Homo sapiens: one gene and its partner. The protein of the gene in region 1 binds, or shares a complex with, the protein of each later gene. Each region holds a gene or a part of one and is shown on either strand. Other genes may lie near its edges. A codon is read from its position in the direction of its gene.

Region 1 (9,777 bases):
CCTGGGCGCAGGGAAGCCACCATGATGCCTCTCTGGGCACCAAACTGCTGGATCGGAAGGTCTGGTGGATATTACTAAACCATACCCCAACACCACCACCACCAAACTTCTGCCTCTGTCTTTAATACAAGTTGGGAGACTGGATGGGCTCCAGGGTGAAGTGAGAGGTTCTTCAAGGTGAACTGTTTCTGCATCCAGTGCCAGGTCTCCTGTCTCAAACTGCAGGGGTGCAGGCAGAAGCGGGGAGCTATGCCCAGTCAGTGCCAGCCCCTCACCCTCACGCCACAGCAGCAGCAGCACCAGGCTCTCTGGCCAACTGCCTGTTTGCCCACGTGGCCACACTCCTGGGTGGGTGCAGCCTCACTGTCTCTCCTGCACTGAGATGCGACTCTCTTTGCCATCCTCCTGGGTGACCGGTTGGCATCCATGTAAAGTCTCCTGCACTGGAGCAGCAGTGTTGGAGCCAGGAAGATCGTCGGGAAAATTGATCTCCTGGGGTTCCTGCTTGGGGTGGGGGGCCTGGAGAGGCAAGGTGTGAGGTCACCCCCAGCAGCAGGGGCAGCTGTGCCTCTGAGGAGCCCCTCCCTGGGAAGCGGATCCCTTCCCCAAGCCCTCCCCCCTTTCCCAGACGGCGGGTCAGTGCTGATTCCTCGGGTGCCTCCTGCCCCCTGCTGGCCACACCAAGGGCGACGAAGAGCTTCCAGAGTGGGAGCCAGTGGGCTTAAGGGGCTGCCACATTTGCTCCCACCCATTTGACCCAGCCCCAAGGCCCAAAGATGCAGCTCCCCACGCGTTGAATGCCAGGAAAGGAGTGAAGAACAGCCAGTGTTAGGCTCTGCCAGTGGTGCCAGGGGCAGTTCTGTGGGGGATTGAGCTCTGGATGGAAGGAGCATGGTGGGTGGGGATGACAGTCCCCAATTCTGCTGCCACCCCACTGGCTGCAGAGACAGACTCTGAATCAGTTTTACTGCCCCATAGGCAACCGTGAGGCCATCTTCCCAGTTTGTCAAAACTCTGTCCCGGGTTCTCAGGGGTGACCTACCTTATTGGTTGGCTTCTTGGCCACCTTTTCTAAAAAAAAAAAAAAAAAAAAAAAGGATGGGGAGTTGGAGAGGCCAGATAAGAAACAGGTGGTCTCCCCTCCCTCCCCCAACACCTCCCCACCTGAGGACTCACTGATAAAGACCAGCACCAAGAGGATGGCAAACAGGATCCCGAAGATGATGGGGATCACCACCAGGGCTCTCAGCCGATCCTGGGGACCTGGAGAAATCAGGACTTCAGCATGCACCCCTCACCTGCAGTTTCTCCCTACCCTCAACCTGCTGTGACTTGTCAGACTCCAGAATCTTCCAATGTCAGAGCTCATCTACATCAGAAGGTTCAAACCGCGGTCCTTGGGGAAATGTGGCTGGCAGATGTCTTTAAAGGAGCCAGAACATTTTCTTAACGTTTGGAAATATTTGCCGACATTTTTAAACTGGGAGATCACATATTCAAACCTAGACATCTGATTTCTCTTACAAACTGGGAAGACTGGGTTCCAGTTGGCAGCCTCCCCACCTGGGAACCATCTAGAAGCGAGTGGTGGCAGTGGCTGTCACCACCTGCTCACCATGCTCCCCGCCACTCCCTGCTCTCTGCCCAATGCCGAGGTCTAGCATGATTCATGTCTGCATGTTGCTTTTGGTATAGAAGAGTGGAGGGGAAAGGTAAAGTATTTCTCATGCCGAATTTTTTTTTCAAAGTGGGAAAATAAAAGAAAGACCAAAAGGCAGGGCGGAGACTAGCGTGAGGCAAGGGATGAAATTGTTTCAGGACAAAATTGAAAAGGATGTCCAAAACACTCAGTCATCAAGGTAAACATTCTTTTAATGCCATATTTTGAAAATCATCAGGCGGACACCAAGTCAGCAAACTACGGCCTGCAGGCTGGCTGCCTATTCCTTTTACTGGAACCAGGGCCAGGATTAGGGTGAGGTGAGTGAGGCAGGGTCATGCAAACACAGGGTCGGATCCTGTTCTTTATTTAAAATGTTGCTATCTTGCTCATCATGGATTTCTTTGCATTAATTTTTATTTTTAAAAATATTGCATCAAAATGAATTTACCTTGATTACTACACTTTTATGGCACCTTCTTAAATATTGCGCCCGAGGGCAAGTGCCTTGCTCACCTCATTCTAGTCCCAGCCCTACAAAGAGGAAAGTACATTTTGAGAAAAAGCAAAGAGAATGTATTTTTCGTTTTTTTAAATTTTATTATTATTATACTTTAAGCTTTAGGGTACATGTGCATAATGTGCAGGTTTGTTACATATGTATACATGTACCATGTTGGTGTGCTGCACCCATTAACTGGTCATTTAGCGTTAGGTAAAGAGAATGTAATTTTCTTACCCCTGACCTTTTTCACTGATTTACATTATCTGATCTTTACTGTAGGCCAACCTTCTCACTCTAAAATCAAAACCTACTAAGGAAGTGCTGTTATCATCCCATTTTACAGATGAAGAAACTGAGGCTAAGAGAGGGGAAGTGATTTGCCCAGACTCCCAAGATAAGTGGCAGAGCTGTGATACCACACCCCCAAACTGCCTCCCCTCCCCTTTTTCCCATCCAGTGTTCCTGTGTGCCTCATCTCCCCCTTCAGTTCCCACCTTCCTAGGCTTTCTCCAGGGCCCATTGTCCAGGACTCACCACAGACAACATCAGTCTTGTTTGTGCCTGCCTGTTGCACAACCAGGTCTTTGGTCTCACAGCTATGCACAGACACGTGCACAAATGCACACACACAGAGAAAGAAAGAGATATTAAGTTTCCCCAAGCATAAGATTTCCAACTCTAGAGTGAGTCAGTCAACAATCAACAAATCCAGGTTCACTGAGCACACAACACGTGCAACGTCCTATGCTGGTTATTATAGGAACGACACAGACTCTTCTTACAGAACTTAAAAGTGCAGAGAAAAGATTCTTGCACATCTTGAAGGAGTAATAAATAGGGGAGTCTATAATGAGTGCCAAGCTTTGTGATCTAGGTAGGCTAAAGTGAGATGGGAATGGTTCAGAGGAGACAGAATCCACCAAGGCTGGAATGGAGAGATGATGAGTTCAGCTTAAGATAGGGTTACTCAACGTCAGCACCAGTGACACTTGGGCTGGATCATTATTTACTGGGGGTGTGGGGGTGGGGGTGGGCTGTCCTATGCATTGCAGATGTTCAGCAGCATCCCTGGCCTCTATCCGCCAGATCCCTGTAGCATCCCCCTCTCCGTTTGTGACGAATGAAATGTGTCCAGACATTGGCAAACGTTCCACAGGGAGCAAAACTGCCCCCTGTTGAGAACCTCTGGTTTAAGGTTCTTCCAGAAAGACTTCCCTGAGGACATATGACCTGAGTGGGCCCTAAAGGATGTAAAATTTGGATCAGCAGTGCAGTCCCGCTAAGTGGGACGATGTGATGTGGGGAAATAAGGCAGGTGGCATGCAGGATGGTGTTAGGAAACTATGGAAAATTGTGTCTTTAGAACCAGATCACTGCCAAGTGTGAAGTTTTCAACTGGATTCAGCTGGTCAGTCTCATCAGCATCCAACCAGGCGACTTCACTAGTGAGAAGATTCAGCTGCCCAGAGAGCTCAGAGGAGGAGAAATTACAGAAGAGTGGCCAGCCAGGAGACACAGCAAACATATAGATATGAGATGATGAAGACCTGGTCCAGGTGGCCCCAGGAGGAGTGGGGCGGAATGGACACAGGACATTGCAAAGGAAAAATCATCTAAGGTGGGAGAAAGAGAGAGAAGCTTTGAAGAAACCATGTACTTTAGTCTTTTTTTTTTTTTTTTTTTTTTTTTGAGACAGAGTCTTGCTCTTTCGCCAGACTGGCTGGAATGCAGTGGCGCGATCTCAGCTCACTGCAACCTCCACCTCCCAGGTTCAAGCAATTCTCCTGCCTCCGCCTCCTGAGTAGCTGGGACTACAGATGTGCGCCACCACGCCCAGCTAATTTTTGTATTTTTAGTAGAGACAGGGTTTTACCATATTAGCCAGGATGGTCTCGATCTCTTGACCTCATGATCTGCCCTCCTCGGCCTCCCAAAGTGCTGCAATTACAGGTGTGAGCCACCACGCCCGGCCTACTTTAGTCTTACATGAGTAGAGCATTCAGGAATTTACAATACACTTTACATGTTTTTAGCTCAAGCCTTGTGAAATGAAGGTCATTCCCATTTTTCAGATGAGGAGACTGAGGCTCAGTGAGGGTCACACACTTACTGAGCTGTAATCAGATACGTAAGCCAATGCACTGATTCCATTAATACTATACCACTGGTGGCCGGGCACGGTGGCTCACGCCTGTAATCCCAGCACTTTGGGAGGCCAAGGCAGACGGATCACGAGGTCAGGAGATCAAGACCATCCTGGCTAACACGGTGAAACGCCGTCTCTACTAAAAATACAAAAAAATTAGCCGGGTGTGGTGGCGGGCGCCTATAGTCCCAGCTACTCAGGAGGCTGAGGCAGGAGAATGGCGTGAACCTGGGAGGCAGAGCTTGCAGTGAGCCGAGATTGCGCCACTGCACTCCAGCCTGGGCGACAGAGTGAGACTCTGTCTCAAAAAAAAAAAAAAAAAAAAAAAAAAAAAAAAACTATACCAGTGGTGCCTCCAGTTATCAGTCAACATTTATCAGTAAAAATTTAAGCACCTACCATGCGTCAGGTACTGTTCCAGGTATAGGGGATGTATCAATGGAAGAAAAAAAAAAGGCCAAGTTTCTACATTTAAGGAATTTTCAATCTATTAGGGAAAGGCAGACAGTTAACAAATAAAATGTATACTCCTATTTGTGCAAAAGTAAAAGGAGGGAAATTTTGTGTGTGTTTGTGTGTGTGTGTGTGTGTGTTGGTTTGTTTATATGTAGAATCTCTGGAAGGATATGCAAGGAACAATGGCTCCCTCCAGAAAGAACTGGGAGCCTAAGGGGCAGGGATGGGAGAAAGACATCACTTTGGCTCTTTTGTGCCTTCTGTCCCATGTGCCTATCTTGCCCATTTTTAAAAATCAAATGCAAAAAGTTAATGGGGCAGGTGTTTGTTTTTTGAGACAGAATGTCGCTCTGTTGCCCAGGCTGGAGTGCAGTGGCGCTATCTTGGCTCACTGCAAACTCCACCTTCCGGGTTCAAGTGATTCTCCTGCCTCAGCCTCCCGAGGAGCTGGGATTACAGGCGCCCACCACCACACCCAGCTAATTTTTTGGTATTTTTAGTAGAGATGGGTTTTTACCATGTTGTGCTGGCTGGTCTTGAACTCCTGACCTCAAGTGATCCACCCGCCTTGGCATCCAAAGTGCTGAGATTACAGGCAAGAGCCACCGCGCCTGGCCTGGGGCCCATGTTTAAGGTATTCCAGGCAGATGAGTTTGATGGAAGAGAATGAACAGTGTGTTCAGAGGATTGCAAGTAGCATGAAGCTATGCGATGCAGGAAAGAGAGCAGGAAATGCAACAGGAAGGTTGGGTGCCATGCTAAGGAGTCTTAGTTCCAACAGAGAGACAGGAAGCATCTCAAATAGGAGAGTGTCATGATTTGAAAGAAACTGTCGAACGCTCATGTTGGCAAGAGGATGGAGACAGAACCAGCAGGAGGGGAGAGACAGAGGCAGGGAGGCCAGGAGGCAGAAAAGGCATCACCCAGACCACAGTGATGAGGCCCAAACTAAAGTGACAACAGTGGAGACAGTAAGTTCCCAAAACACGTAGACAGCCAGTGGCAGGACCTGGTGTGGGTTTGGAGTTGGAGGTAAGAGAGGGAGGCCCTCAGGGTGAGCACCCAGAGCCCAGAAAGCCCTAGAAAGCCAGGTAAGGTGAAAGCAAGACGAGGAAAACTGAGGAGAAGCAGGAGGGGCAGAAGGAAAGCTAAAATAAGTGTCCCAATACCCCCAAGATAGGAGGCTCTCATGAAGCGAGAGATCAACAGTGTCTATTACCTCAAAGAGACAGCAGGCAAAAAAAATGTGGAAATGTGCCTGTCTGGTTGGCCATGAGGCCACTCTGCAGATGCTTCACAAGTACATGAGTGTGTGTGGACCTCTGGGAGCAGGGACAGGACAGGTGGCTGGAGAGAATGGAGGCAGCTCCATGCCACTCTTAGAGCAGGAAACACAAGGGATGAGTGCTTATACCTTGTCCAAGGGTGACATTTTTCGAAAGCAGATGACACATTGGAGAAGAAGCCGACTGGGCAGGGCTCGCAGATGGTATCAGAAACCCCTGTAGCTGGGAGTGGGTGGGGAGGGGGACATTAACCATCACAGTGGACCACCTGTCCGGCTCACAAGGCAGCCAGTGGCCAGGCAGGACGGGAAGAGCTCCTGCCTTGAGCACTCTTCCCCCGATGTGGTACTGCCCCCGACAGCTGCAGTCCCCAGGAGGACTTCTCCCATTGCCCTTCAAAGGCAGATCCCCATGGCAGAAGGCAGAATGAACAAGGTCCCGTCTGCAGCTCACTCCAGTGGGGATACCGACATAGGTTGGAGCCTCTGCTTCCTCTGCCTCTGGGGCTAAGTGCCCACTGCCCAGCCCCTCACCTTGGGCCCTAAGCTCCTCTGTCCCCCTCCAAAACTGATTCCCAGATGAGCCACTTACCAATCTGCTTGACCCCAAAGCCGGGCGAGCATGAGCGGTGCAGGACACAGCTCTCACAGGCCTCACTCGTACAGTGCCAGCCTTCTTCACAGGTGCAGATGGTGTCTGTTTCTGAGGTGCCCTTCTGCTGGACCCGAAGCCCTAGGTCTGAGAAGAGAAGGGCAGGAAGGATGGGAACCCCCTGCTGGGCCATGCTCTGAGCCTCACTCCCCACATTGCCTGCTCTTTCTTCCTCAGACCCTCTTCCAAGTAGAGATGGCAATCAAATCATTTAATGATCAGTACAGCCCGGACTCCAACCAATCAGAGCAGACCCTGGCTACATAAAATTAGAATGGCTGCATTGTCGGGAATATCAGCCCGGTTCCCAAGCGTCCCTTTCCCAACAGCGCACGCACTGGGGTCGCAGTATTTGTGCTGGTGGCAGTGTGTCTCTCTGTTCCAGGTGTCTAGGAATTCGCTTTCACCGCAAGGAAGGCATTCCGTTTCAGTGAACTCTGTGCAGTCACTCACCAGTTTCTGTCCTGGAAAACATCAGGAAATGAGGGAGGGCTCTGGCCAACTCCATGAGTCAGACACTAACCACACAATGATCAGGCCAGGCTTTAGGGTAGGGGATTCAAAGATGAAAGTCTTGGATCCTTCATAATCAGGCGAGGAAGATGGAGAAGCTGGGATCCCTAGTTCAGGGTAGACAGAGTTTTACCTGGTAGAGAGGGAACCAGAACATTCTGACAGTGAAGCAGGGCTGGGAAATGGGTCGTTTCAGATTTGAGTTTACAGTTAACATATGGGGTCTGCGTCTGCCACCAAAGCAAAGGGGGACTCCATGATGGGGCTAGAGGGTTGGCATCTCACCTGGCTGGCACAAAGAACAGCACTGACTGTTTATTAGGTACTGTTTTTCTCTGCATGCAGTGGGTGGTTCTGGATGGACCTAAAAACAGAATTGTGCAATTTGAAGGGATCTTGAAATCTCCGTTGCAACTTCTTCAGCAGAAAGGTAAAAGTCATCCAGGACAGAGGCTGCAAACTGAAGTGCAAGTCAAAACAGAAAGTGGAACCTGCATGATATTTGGCATGTTTGTTTTCAAGTAAATTGTCAACTGAGCTGATTATAATCGCACCCAGAGAATCATTCTGGTATTTTTACAAAGCAATGGTACTGTAAACTCACAATATTCTCTGAACAGAACAGAATTCCTTGGGGCTTGATGCCTGAGTCATTCCTCTTCCCAAAGATCCCATAGGATATGGGGACTCCAGCAGCTCCCCTGGAGTCCTGAAGCTGGCTGACTTCAGCTGGTCCCAGTGCTGTTTGGGGCTATGTTTAGCACTTGGCCTCTTCCTCCTATTCTTCTGCTTCCCTTCCTGCTCCTTTCCAAAGCCCATCATGTTTTCTTCCTCCAACTCCTCATCATCTGTTCATCCAGCCCTTCCCTCATAAAATGCTAGAATGTAAAGCTGGAAGGGTAAACTCACACTTTCATTTTACAGATAGTTGAGACTGAGCACCAAAGAGGAGGGTCACTTGCCCAGAGTCTCACAGTGACAGAGTCCAAATGAGAACTCAGGTCTCAATGCTCCTCTCTCCATCAACTTGTGTTTCATCTTCACCATTTTACTACATCCAGGTACCACCCATGCTATTAATTACTTATTGTTAATTTCAATACTTTTATTTTATTTTTTGAGACAGAGTCTCGCTCCATCGCCCAGGCTGGAGTGCAGTGGCATCATCTCAGCCCACTGCAACCTCTATCTCCTGGGTTCAAGCAATTCTCCAGCCTCAGCCTCCTGAGTAGCTGGGATTACAGGTGTGTACCACTATGCCCGGCTAATTTATGTATTTTTAGTAGAGACAGGGTTTCACCATGTTGGCCAGGCTGATCTAAAACTCCTGACCTCAAGTGATCTGACTGCCTTGGCCTCCCAAAGTGCTGGGATTACAGGCACAAGCCACCGTGCCTGGCCGGTACATTTACTTTAAATGTAAACCTCACATCATTGCCAAGAGACAAGAACCAGTATCACTTCTCATAAATAAAAGGTAACCCTAAAAATAAATTCTGGGGAAACAAAACAAGGTTATTAAAACCCAGCTGGTTGTTTGCTTGTTGAAGGCCCTCCCAGGCCTGCTCTTGATTTTTGTTTTAAAAGAAGGATTAGCAAGCCTTTGAGAGGCATTAACTCTATTCTAGCTCCAGAGACTTCCTCTTTGAAAAAATGAGAAGGATTTTTAAAAGAACTGTAAAGTAAGTGTATGTTTAATTCTATGTCCATGTGCTCCTTAAAACTGTCCCACAGTTTGGGAACAGCCAGTGAAAAGAACACAAGTTTGAGAGTCAGACAGCTTTAGACTCCAGTCCTGACTTTGTAACACTTACTAGTTATTTTGCTTCTCTTAGCCTCAGTTTCTCTATCTCTAAAATGGGAGTAATAATGCCTGCCCTGCAGGTTGGATTACGAAGATAAGAAAGAATACATGTATATGGCCTAGCACAGTGTCAGGAACATAGTAGGTGCTCATTAAATGGCAATTTTAATCATCATTCATTTGTTTCTGCTTGCATGATATATGGCAAGCAGCCCGGCTACCTGGCTGGCTGTCCAGAATCCTACCTAACTGGTGGCTCTCATTCAACCTGGGTATCTCAGCAAATTACTTACAGAAATGTGTCTTACCCAAAATGGGAAAGGAAGTAGAAAAGGCTACTGCCCCCCACCAGCTCATTGCAAGACACCATCCTGTGAACGTGGAGCTCCCACACTCCCAAAGATAGGAAAGTCCTTGATACCATCTTCAAACACATGAGAAATAAAACGCTCCCCTAAAAGTCTGTCAATCTCCAGTTCTCACTCCCCATAGTTCTGGTCCTTCTGCCACAAAACAGCTCAGGACCAGAGCTTGGAGACTCTCACTATCTGAGAGGCAGGCTCGGGAATCATGCAGATGTAGATTCACAACCAGGTTCTTCCATTAGCTAGCTATGAGACCTTTGGCAAGACAATCCCCCTTTCTGAGCCTCAATTTGCCCATCTGTATAATGGGGGAGTTGTGAGAAATCAGACAAAGAAAACAGGCAGTGTTTGGCTCAGAGCCTGACACACAAGAAGCCCTCAATAGATAGCT
Region 2 (9,888 bases), on another chromosome or scaffold:
CTTCCAGATCCCATGAAAATGTCTGAAAAAAAACTTTTAAAAATGAGTAGTACAAGGTTATTTGTTACAGCATTTAAAAATATCATATGATTGGAAACAACCTAAATGTTCATCAATAGGGGACTAGTTAAATAATTTATGGTACATCATCATTCATGTAATGGGACACTATGAAGTTGTAAAAAAACAGAGAATAAGGAAGTGTTTTGCTGACATAGAACAATCTCCAAGACACATTGTTAAGATGTAGAACAATGTGTTATATACTGCTGGGTGTTAAAAGGCTGAAAGGGAATATCTATGTATTTGCTTGAATGTGCATAAAAGCATCCCAGGAAGATACATAAGAAACTGACAACACTGTTTAACCATGGAAGACTGAAAGGAAGAGATGGGAAAAAGACTGCATTACATACTCTTTCATACTCTTTCATTTACATTTTAGACCATGTGAATGTATTATTTAGTCAAAAATAAATATAAAAAGGAAGAAACCACAACAACCATAGGAAATAAGAAAAGGTGACATCAATGTGACATAAATTTTGAGAGATAGCAACAAGCAAGAAAGGCCATGAATTTGGACTAACAGACAGATCAGAGCAGTAAACATTGCAATTCAATAAGTTGTAAGAGTATGCTTTCCCAAAGAAGCATTAATCACAGAGTCAATGAATGTGAGGAGCAGGGGTGGGCTATGAGGCAATCATTGAAGAGCGGCAGCGGAAACAGCTGGGAAAAGTGGCCCTCTCCCTCTCTCTCCTTTCCCCCAGTGGACCATTTGTTAGCAGCAGCATTTGGCCTTGGCCCTCAGTCTAAAGTTACCTAGAGAGGGCTCTAGGAAGGGTGCTGAGACCTCCACAACAGATAGGAGGACAAAACCAAAAGGAAAACCAATATTAGTCAAGAGTGAAACCTTCTACAAGGCTCCACCCCCAGAGAAAAGCCCTCCTTACTTCATCAGTTGTGGGGGTCCCTGGTCTTCCTGCCTCTCCACCCACATAACCTAAAGGGAAGCCTGACTGTTGACATTTCCTACCCACTTAAACAGAACCCACAGTCAGCCCTCCCATTCCGGAGAGAGGTTTGTGGGGAAAACAGATAGATCAACACAATTGCAGAGGAAACTCATGCCATCTACCCATAATAACCAACACGGGTTTTCATTCATAAATAAATAAATGGCCAAGCATTTGAGAAAAACTAGCAACATAATGAAAAGGACCAAAATAAACAAATGGAACTGACCCAGAGGAAAGAGGGAGAATTAAGGGAATTGAAGAAAATGTAAATATATTCTGACATGTATTGCTAGAAAAGCTAGCCAAGCGCTATTCTCCCAGGTTAGAATATTTTACAACTTCCCCTTCTATCTCTTTAAAATAATATTTAGTAATTTGGCAAACATTTACTAACTCCTTACAATGTGTCAGGAACCAAAATTTCTGGGTTTTTTTGTTTGTTTGTTTGTTTTAATTATCTTTTTCCTCTAATAGCTAATGGTAGAAAAATCAGACAAGTCCATTATGATATGATGTGGCAAATGCTATGATAGATTAAGCACAGAAGAGGTAGGGCACAGTGGCTCACGCCTGTGTAATCCCAGCACTTTGGGAGGCCAAGGCATGTGGATCACCTGAGGTCAGGAGTTCAAGACCAGCCTGGCCAACTTGGTGAAACCCCGTCTCTACTAAATTTACAAATATTAGCCAGGCAGAGTGGTGCACGCCTGTAATCCCAGCTACTCAAGAGGCTGAGGCTGGAGAATCACTTGAACCCGGGAGGTGGAGGTTGTAGTGAGCCAAGATTATGACACTGCACTCCAGCCTGGGTGACAAAGCCAGACTCCTTCTCAACAACAACAACAACAAAAAGATTAAGTACAGAAGAGAGCACCTTGTCAGCTGGAACAGAATATTTCACTTAAACATTAATAGATAGCCGGGCGCTGTGGTTCACATCTGTAATCCCAGCACTTTGGGACACCGAGGCTGGCAGATCATGAGGTCAGGAGTTTGAGACCAGCCTAGCCAATATGGTGAAACCCCGTCTCTACTAAAAAAATTTTGTAAAAATTATCCAGGCGCGGTTGCGCAAGCCTGTAGTCCCAGCTACTTGGGAGGCTGAGGCAGGAGAATCGTTTGAACCTGGGAGATGGAGGTTTCAGTGAGCTGAGATCGTGCCATTGCACTCCAGTCTGGGCGACAGAGTGAGACTTTGTCTCAAACAAACAAACAAACAAACAAAAAACATTAATAGATAAGACAGGAGAGAATTAGCCTTGGCACACAAATAACATGAATAAGCACAGCACATTTCAGGAAATAAAACTAGCTTAAAATGTTTGAGACCTAATGAGTCGTAGACGATGAGGAGAGAAATGTGGGCAGGGGTCAACTCATCTGCCATGTTAAGAATCGAGACCCTTTCCTCTAGTCTAGAGCTTTTCAGGTATATTCAGGGAAAAGAACCCTTAGGAGGCCCTTCATACAACAAACAAAATACTGTTATATTTAACTCTTTCATATGTACTGGAAATGATTTTCCAAGCAGAAATTATGACTGTGTTCTGGGTTATCAATATAAAATCACAACCACAGGCATATTCACATCAAAAACAAACTGTTGAAGTATGATCCATTGTTTTTCTTATTTTTCCCTTGATATTTGCTACAAATCAATCACTAGCTAGCAGAAAAGTAGTAGTAGAAAAGGGTGACCAATATTTAAGAAAATTCTGTGTAAAAATAACTGAAAAATGAGACTTCAATCCATTAACTTAATTCTTTCTGTAAACTTAGAAAAAGATGGTCAATATTTGATTTTGGCTATAGACACTTGCATGCACTCCTATACATGTATACATTTCTTGGAAACTAAGTTTGATAATCATTTTTGGACGTGTTAGGCAGCTGAAGATATTAAAACGGAGCCAACTCCCTGTTAGGGAGAGACAGGCATGAGAGGTTCTGAGACAAAGAACTTCTGATGCAGAATCAGAAATCAAAAAAACAGCCCAAATGAGGAAGCTGGAAAGGTAGCCAATTGTGGCATTATGGTAGAGGACCAGGCAGAAGGATGAGAGAAAGAGAAGGCTTCAACAATTGAGGTACAAGCAGGGCATTCTGGAGTCAGTTGCTGTCAGTGTGAAAGATGGATGGGGTGGGACAGAAAGAGAAACAGGGAGATAAGTTAGGATGGTACAATTCAGTAATCTACAAAGGAGAGGATATATGGGCCTGGAATAGGATGATGGCAGGGGCCATGGAGAGAAGTGGTGGCAACCAAGGTTTTTGGAGGAAGAAGCCACTGGGATTGGGGCAATCTGGGGCAAGAGAGAGTGAAAAATCATGAATGGATCCCAGATCTCTGACTTGGGCAATTAAGTGGGTGGTGGGACCATTCACAGAGATACGGAGAATCTTAAGGGAGAACAGGTCTGGATTGGAATTAGAGTGGTGAGATAAATTAATTTTAGAGCATACCAAATGTAAGATGGCTTTGGGATATCCAAGTAGAGATTTTCAGAGGTAGCTGTGCTTACAACTCTGAAGTTCAGGACTTCAGTTATAGATTTGAGATTTATCACAATGAAGGTGAGATTGAAACCCATGAAAGTTCATGAAACCCATGAATCACCCAATGAAACCATGGAGAACAAGAAGAGAGGGGAGGAGAGGAGAAGGGAGAAGGAAAGGAAATAGAGAGAAGGAATACCAAAGTTTTAAGGGATACAAAGAGGAAAGAAGATAACATGAAGAAGGATTCTGAGAGGCAGAAGCCCTTAAGAATAGGGTGATATAGAATTCAAGTGGGGAGAGCATTCAGGAAGATGACAACAGGATAATAGGTCAACAGAGTAATAGAGAGGTCGCTAAAAATAAACTCTAAGAAGTATTCAGCCAAAACTATTATTGAGCTAATAATGGTGGGATCAATTTCAGGGGAATATTGTGGGCAGAAGTCAGACTGTAGGAGGCTGGGGATCAAGAAGTTGAGGCAAGGAGGTTGGACAACAACTGTTTTTTCAAGTTGGTCACGTGAACAAATCTGTGACCTTCAGCCTCCCCTCCCTCGGGTCTTGGCTGAGCTGATTGCAGGGCCCCTGCAGCTCTGGCACTCTCAAGTTGTATAAAACTGACAGTGCAGAAGTCCTTGAGCCCATTTTGGCTCTCATGATAATTTTCCTTCAGTGGAACTAAGGTTACTTGTCTAAGAACCAAAGCCTCTGACTTGACTGATCAAAGTTCATCACGTGCATCGAAGCCACCTACTTGGCAGATGTAGTGAAAAGCTACATAGATCTGGGCCCAGGACAGGATGCTGGGGCGTGGGAGGGGAAGAAAGCAGGTGCTAACTATATAGATAGCATGCCTATCAGAGCAGTTTTTACGTTTCCTATTTGTCTCTCAAAACAATTTTATAGGAATCATCAAAGCAATTTTATCATGGTTTCTAGACCAGGTTTGGATGTGAGGTAGGGATTTCCACAGCTGCTTTTAGTTTGAAGGAAATCTGATAAGATGATGCAAAAGCCCTTCAGAAATGTGTAATCCTACACACTTCAGTGATTCAATTCATTGTCAAAACTTAAGGTGTTTTTAATATTGTTATTGTTCATTTGGTTTTTACCAACATGTAAGGAGTTGGCAATTATTTGTTAAACTCATGTCTTAGGCTAAATAAATTCCAAAAAATTCAGGATGAGAATTGTTTATTGCTTAACGTGTTTCAAATTTCTTCCATGCACATCTTTATTAGATCTTCACAGCAACCTACAGGATAAGCAAGACAGGTGCAAGTGCCTCCTTTGGGTATGAGGAAACTGAGGTCTAAAGAGATGAAGTGATTTGCCCAAGGCTCATAGCAATTTATTGGTAGAGCAAAGACTAGAATTCAGATCTCTTAACTGCAGCCTATTTTCCCTATTCTGAACTGTTACATCAGCATCAACAATTATCTAATGGATTGGAACAGTGTACACAGGCAGCTTAGCTACGTCAAGTCACGATTTTTACTTTAACTTCAATTCCAGAGTCTTGGCCTGATTTCCCTCAAGACCCTACTTATCTTTGCCTTTGCAAAATTTATTTTTCTTGCATTATCTTTCCAGCTAAATTTTATTTAATAACCATCAGCATGCTTTTTTTGCTTTATGCCATGTAGACTTGACCTGAAAACCTGCCAGGCTTTCATTGAGTTTAGTGATTAAAGAAGTAAAGTTCTGAGAAGCAATTAGTTGATGGGACACCAGTCATAAAATCAATCCAAACTTTTGTTGACATGTGTTTCTTTCTCCATATACCAGGTTCCCGCTTCGTATTAGTAAGATTGAAATTGAAATAAGTCTATTGCTGGTGGATGAATTTGTCACTTTCCTTGAAACTGGTGAACCCAAAAAGTTAGACAGTGATAGGAAAATACTGCCATTGTCTGTTAAGAAGTCTATGACATTTCAAGGCAAGAATGAATATATGGAAGAAGAAACTTGTTTCTTCTTTACTTACAAAAAGGAAAGCCTGGAAGTGAATGATATGGGTATAATTAAAAAAAAAAAAAAAAACAAAAAACCTTTACGTAACGTTTTTGCTGGGAGAGAAGACTACGAAGCACATTTTCCAGGAAGTGTGGGCTGCAACGATTGTGCGCTCTTAACTAATCCTGAGTAAGGTGGCCACTTTGACAGTCTTCTCATGCTGCCTCTGCCACCTTCTCTGCCAGAAGATACCATTTCAACTTTAACACAGCATGATCGAAACATACAACCAAACTTCTCCCCGATCTGCGGCCACTGGACTGCCCATCAGCATGAAAATTTTTATGTATTTACTTACTGTTTTTCTTATCACCCAGATGATTGGGTCAGCACTTTTTGCTGTGTATCTTCATAGAAGGTTGGACAAGGTAAGATGAACCACAAGCCTTTATTAACTAAATTTGGGGTCCTTACTAATTCATAGGTTGGTTCTACCCAAATGATGGATGATGGTAGAAACCAAATAGAAGAATGGTCTTGTGGCATAATGTTTGTTGCCTAGTCAATGAAGTCTCATATTCTTGTCTCTGGTTAGGATCTTGGGATCTGGAGTCAGACTGCCTGGGTTCAAATCTTGGCTCTGCCCATACCATCTCTGTTATCCTGGGGCAAGTGCCTCAGTTTCCACATCTGAGAAATGGGGATGGTATTGGTGTCCATTTCATAGATTAAGTGAGTTTAGCCTTGTAAAAAGCTTAGGAGGGGGTCTGATACATAGTAAGCACTATGTACGCACTAGCTATAATTATTTGCTAAAGTTCTGCTTTAAAAGTAAGCTATTTTTTTATGGAGACAGCTTTTTTCTTTTAAATTTCCAGCTAGGCAAGAAGAGCGTCAATTTGATCTAAAATTTCATAATGCTTCAGATTAACATAGACATGGATAAGTCCCAGAATTTGCAGTCTTTTAGTAAAAGTAGCATTTTCTGTGTAATTCTTCACAAGCACTGATTGTAGTTGCAGGATGCTCAGTCTCCCTCTGAGATGTTTTACATTTTTAAATGGTTAGACTTGCAGGAACAAAAGAGCAGAGTAACTTAGTAGGCTGTTTTGCATTCTTAGGAAAAGAAAACCATCAGGACTTATTTTGTTTTCATGTATTTTTTCACTTCCACTGAGGAGTATAATTGGCTGGTGTTGACAAAATACCAATCATAGATGTAAAGGAGAAAGTTGATTAGTTTTCTGGCTGTTCCTAAAATTCTGGATGCAGGAACTGTGGCTAGAAAGCATCTGGATGATTGCACTTTATCAGGGATACTTGAGTGTCCTCTCTTAGGATCTGGACCTAGAATTAATGTCATGAGATTTTTCTAACAGGATAAGGTGAGGTAGTGAGGGCTGAAGTCATCCACTGGGTTATCCAAATATTAGGTTTCACTGCTGACAAAAGAGGGGGCTTCTGGTCTGGTTGGTTATTTGTGTTTGGCCTGATGTGCTCTGTCAATCAAATGTATGGACATAGGCCTAGCTTCTAAAGGGGCAATAGTGACCTCAGTGGACTGATATTTACCGTACTATTTACATGTGCTCTTAATTACAGCAGAAGCTGCCAGCTAACTGAATCTTGTTTTGAATCTAAAAAATCTACTCTTAAAGCAAGAAAATGGTATAAAATTAGTTGATAATGCAAGTGAATTCTGTACATTTAATTATTCTAAGACATTGGAAAATAAAATATCTTGTTACTTTGAGGATAAAAGATGATTTCTTTAAAAATGCAAATGTTTTCTACAAATACTAAAGTTAAAAGGGAGAGAGATGTAATTAGAACTCGTTAACTGACACATTGCAAATTAACTTCTTTTTATAAAGCACTGCATCACAAACACTAAAATGAAGTGGGCAAATTAGCTCTGCAGAAAACTATTTTCTAGGCTGATGTTTATAATGACCAATCATTACTGAAGCAATGAGAAATGTGACAATTACAGAATATTGCTGCTATAGTATGTTGAAAAAATATGCATTTTGTAGTGAACATTTAGTAGAATAGCTCTGATTTCTACCTGGAGTTTCTGATAACATGACATCTTAATTGCTGTCTTTTATAGATTTTTAAACTGCAAATACAAAATAGCAATCAGCCAATATAATAACTTATTATTCTCCATTTATGCCTGAAAGTCCTCCTCTTGTTGATGCCGTGGAAATGAATGTAGAGGCAGATATCATTAGCTGTATTCTCCTTCCGAATGACATTTATCATATCCTTGTTATTCCAAAATAGATAGAAGATGAAAGGAATCTTCATGAAGATTTTGTATTCATGAAAACGATACAGAGATGCAACACAGGAGAAAGATCCTTATCCTTACTGAACTGTGAGGAGATTAAAAGCCAGTTTGAAGGCTTTGTGAAGGTAAGCAGCTTAATTACTGGTAAAAGTGTCATTGAAATATTTTACTACATTTGCTAGATCGGGAAACTGACAATGCCAATGTTTAAAGATTGGTTATAGACACAGACACACAGACACACACACACATATATATGCATGCAGATATACACACATACATGGGTGTGTGTGTGGGGGTTAAAAAAAAAAAACACAAAGACACTCTCTGGGGAAAATACACCCTTAGGGGCACAGTCACACATATTTGTCAGCTTACATATGCAGCTACCACTAGGCAAAATGATGAAGTCCACCAAGCTTGGTTTTTGCATTGCTGTGTCTCCCCATCCAAACCTTGATGCTCTCGCACTGGGGACCCAGAGTCTGATCCCCATTTCCCAGGGAAGCAATAGCCGTCAACAGCTGCCGTGGCAGCAGGCCACAAGTGAAGGGACACCTGAAGACTGGTAACAGTCTCTGGTGCTTCTCTGATGATGGAATTTTAGGTGTCCTGACAGTGAGATCTTTCCCTTTTACTGGGGAGAGAGGTGCAGGGAATAAGTAATAGACATTCTCAGTGTCGCTCAAACCAGACTCCATATAATATCACTTGCTCATGAAGCCCGCCCACTCTATGGCCGGTCATGACCAGAGGCACAGAGGGTTCAAAGCCTTTTAGCCCACCAGGCTGGTAGCTAGCATGAAGTCACTGCAGTGACTGTGGCTTATAACAGATACCTAAAACAAGAATTTTTAGAACCTTTACATTAATTCCATCATCACAGACATAGGGTCTAGGGGCTCTTTCTCCTGAGGCAGAACATCAAGAGTTCTTTCTGCCTATGTCCCTTTCAGAACACTGAGTCAAATACCCTTGGGCCTCGGCTCACTTAGGGGTCATTTCTAGGAGGCAGCACTCCACATTGAGGACAGTTCTGGGCCAGGTGGGTGGGTATCTGGGTAAACCAACAGGAATTAGTTCTCACATATAGATGATGTGTAATTTAATGCAGGCGTAAAAGGGTTAAGATCTTATTTCTGATCTTATTTCTGCCCTCCTGTACTGTCACCGAGGTGCCATTTAATTCATTAGTGAAGACTCTAACAGCTTATTCCTGAGTCACCTACGGAGAACAGAATGTGGCTCAAATCCGCTGCTTGCTTTCAGGTTCTTTACACTAATCTAGGCTTTAGATGAAACTCCTAAACCCTTTCTTTGCAAGACTGGCCAGCTAGGAAAATGATTTGAGTTTCTTCGGTTCTTCGAGGATTTGGGCCAGTATTACAGAGTATTGGAAGATGTTACCAGTTTAAATGTGAATAAAGGCACTTTCAAAACAATGGCTAATAATCCAAATAACAGACTGAATGTGCTTGGCTATGTGACTTTGGGTAAATAACTTCACCTTTCTGGGCCTCAGTTTTGTCATCTATAACATGAGAAGACAGATTATCTGTAAGGGCACTATCAGCTCTGACATTCTACAATTATGTGATAAGCCTTCAGTTCCCTCCAATGGCAGTGAGAGTGGCTTGTCAGTCCCCCTCGTTTCTTACGGAGACTTTTACGGTTGAATTGTCAATTCCTCACGTCATTATTTCAGGTTGGCTATGTATGTAAAGCTCCCAAAATCAGCTACCGAGGATAGGAGTAAAGAAAACAGTCAGTTTGGCCTCCCTGCTTATGCTTGTATGAAAAAAGTGACAGCTCCAAAGTTTCATATTCTTAAAAGGCAGATCTTCTCAGGCATGTCAGCCAGGGCCCCAGGGATCTCCTCCTTACATGCAACTAAGGAGGCTCCTTGTCTCTACTGCAGCAGGTGTGGAACCCTAGTCAACACCACCTATACCTAGGATTACGTACAATGAGTAGATACAAAGTCCTCCAGCTACCCAATCCTCCCCCAATGACGGATCCCCTTTCCAATACGCTTTCCCCCAAATTTCTCACCCTAAAACAAAATTCGAGACTTTGAAAAAACTCAATAGGACAATTATAGAATAGCTCCAGATTA

Evidence for each region.
Region 2: the proteins of CD40 (region 1) and CD40LG are in contact, whole or in part, in a crystal structure (PDB 3QD6), measured with the Homo sapiens proteins. Residues at the interface, in NP_001241.1 of Homo sapiens: Glu64 (codon at 7,109), Ser65 (codon at 7,106), Glu66 (codon at 7,103), His76 (codon at 7,073), Cys77 (codon at 7,070), Gln79 (codon at 7,064), Tyr82 (codon at 7,055), Asp84 (codon at 7,049), Asn86 (codon at 7,043), Leu87 (codon at 6,789), Trp109 (codon at 6,723), Cys119 (codon at 6,693); in NP_000065.1 of Homo sapiens: Ile127, Glu129, Ala130, Lys143, Gly144, Tyr145, Tyr146, Cys178, Pro217, Cys218, Gln220, Ser245, Gln246, Ser248, His249, Gly250, Thr251, Gly252.

Annotation. Positions count from the first base shown.
Region 1 is NC_000020.11:46,119,624-46,129,400, reverse strand, and holds part of CD40 (tumor necrosis factor receptor superfamily member 5 isoform 1 precursor), read right to left. Parts: intron 7,582-9,777; coding exon 7,503-7,581; intron 7,169-7,502; coding exon 7,043-7,168; intron 6,792-7,042; coding exon 6,645-6,791; intron 6,276-6,644; coding exon 6,182-6,275; intron 2,762-6,181; coding exon 2,700-2,761; coding exon of another isoform or gene 2,660-2,699; exon of another isoform or gene 2,240-2,659; intron 1,423-2,239; exon of another isoform or gene 1,264-1,422; coding exon 1,177-1,263; coding exon of another isoform or gene 1,165-1,176; intron 1,072-1,164; coding exon 1,043-1,071; intron 520-1,042; coding exon 361-519; coding exon of another isoform or gene 258-360; 3' UTR 1-257.
Region 2 is NC_000023.11:136,642,501-136,652,388, forward strand, and holds the start of CD40LG (CD40 ligand), read left to right. Parts: upstream 1-5,657; 5' UTR 5,658-5,748; coding exon 5,749-5,904; intron 5,905-7,765; coding exon 7,766-7,897; intron 7,898-9,888. UniProt on the Homo sapiens protein: Cytokine that acts as a ligand to CD40/TNFRSF5. Costimulates T-cell proliferation and cytokine production.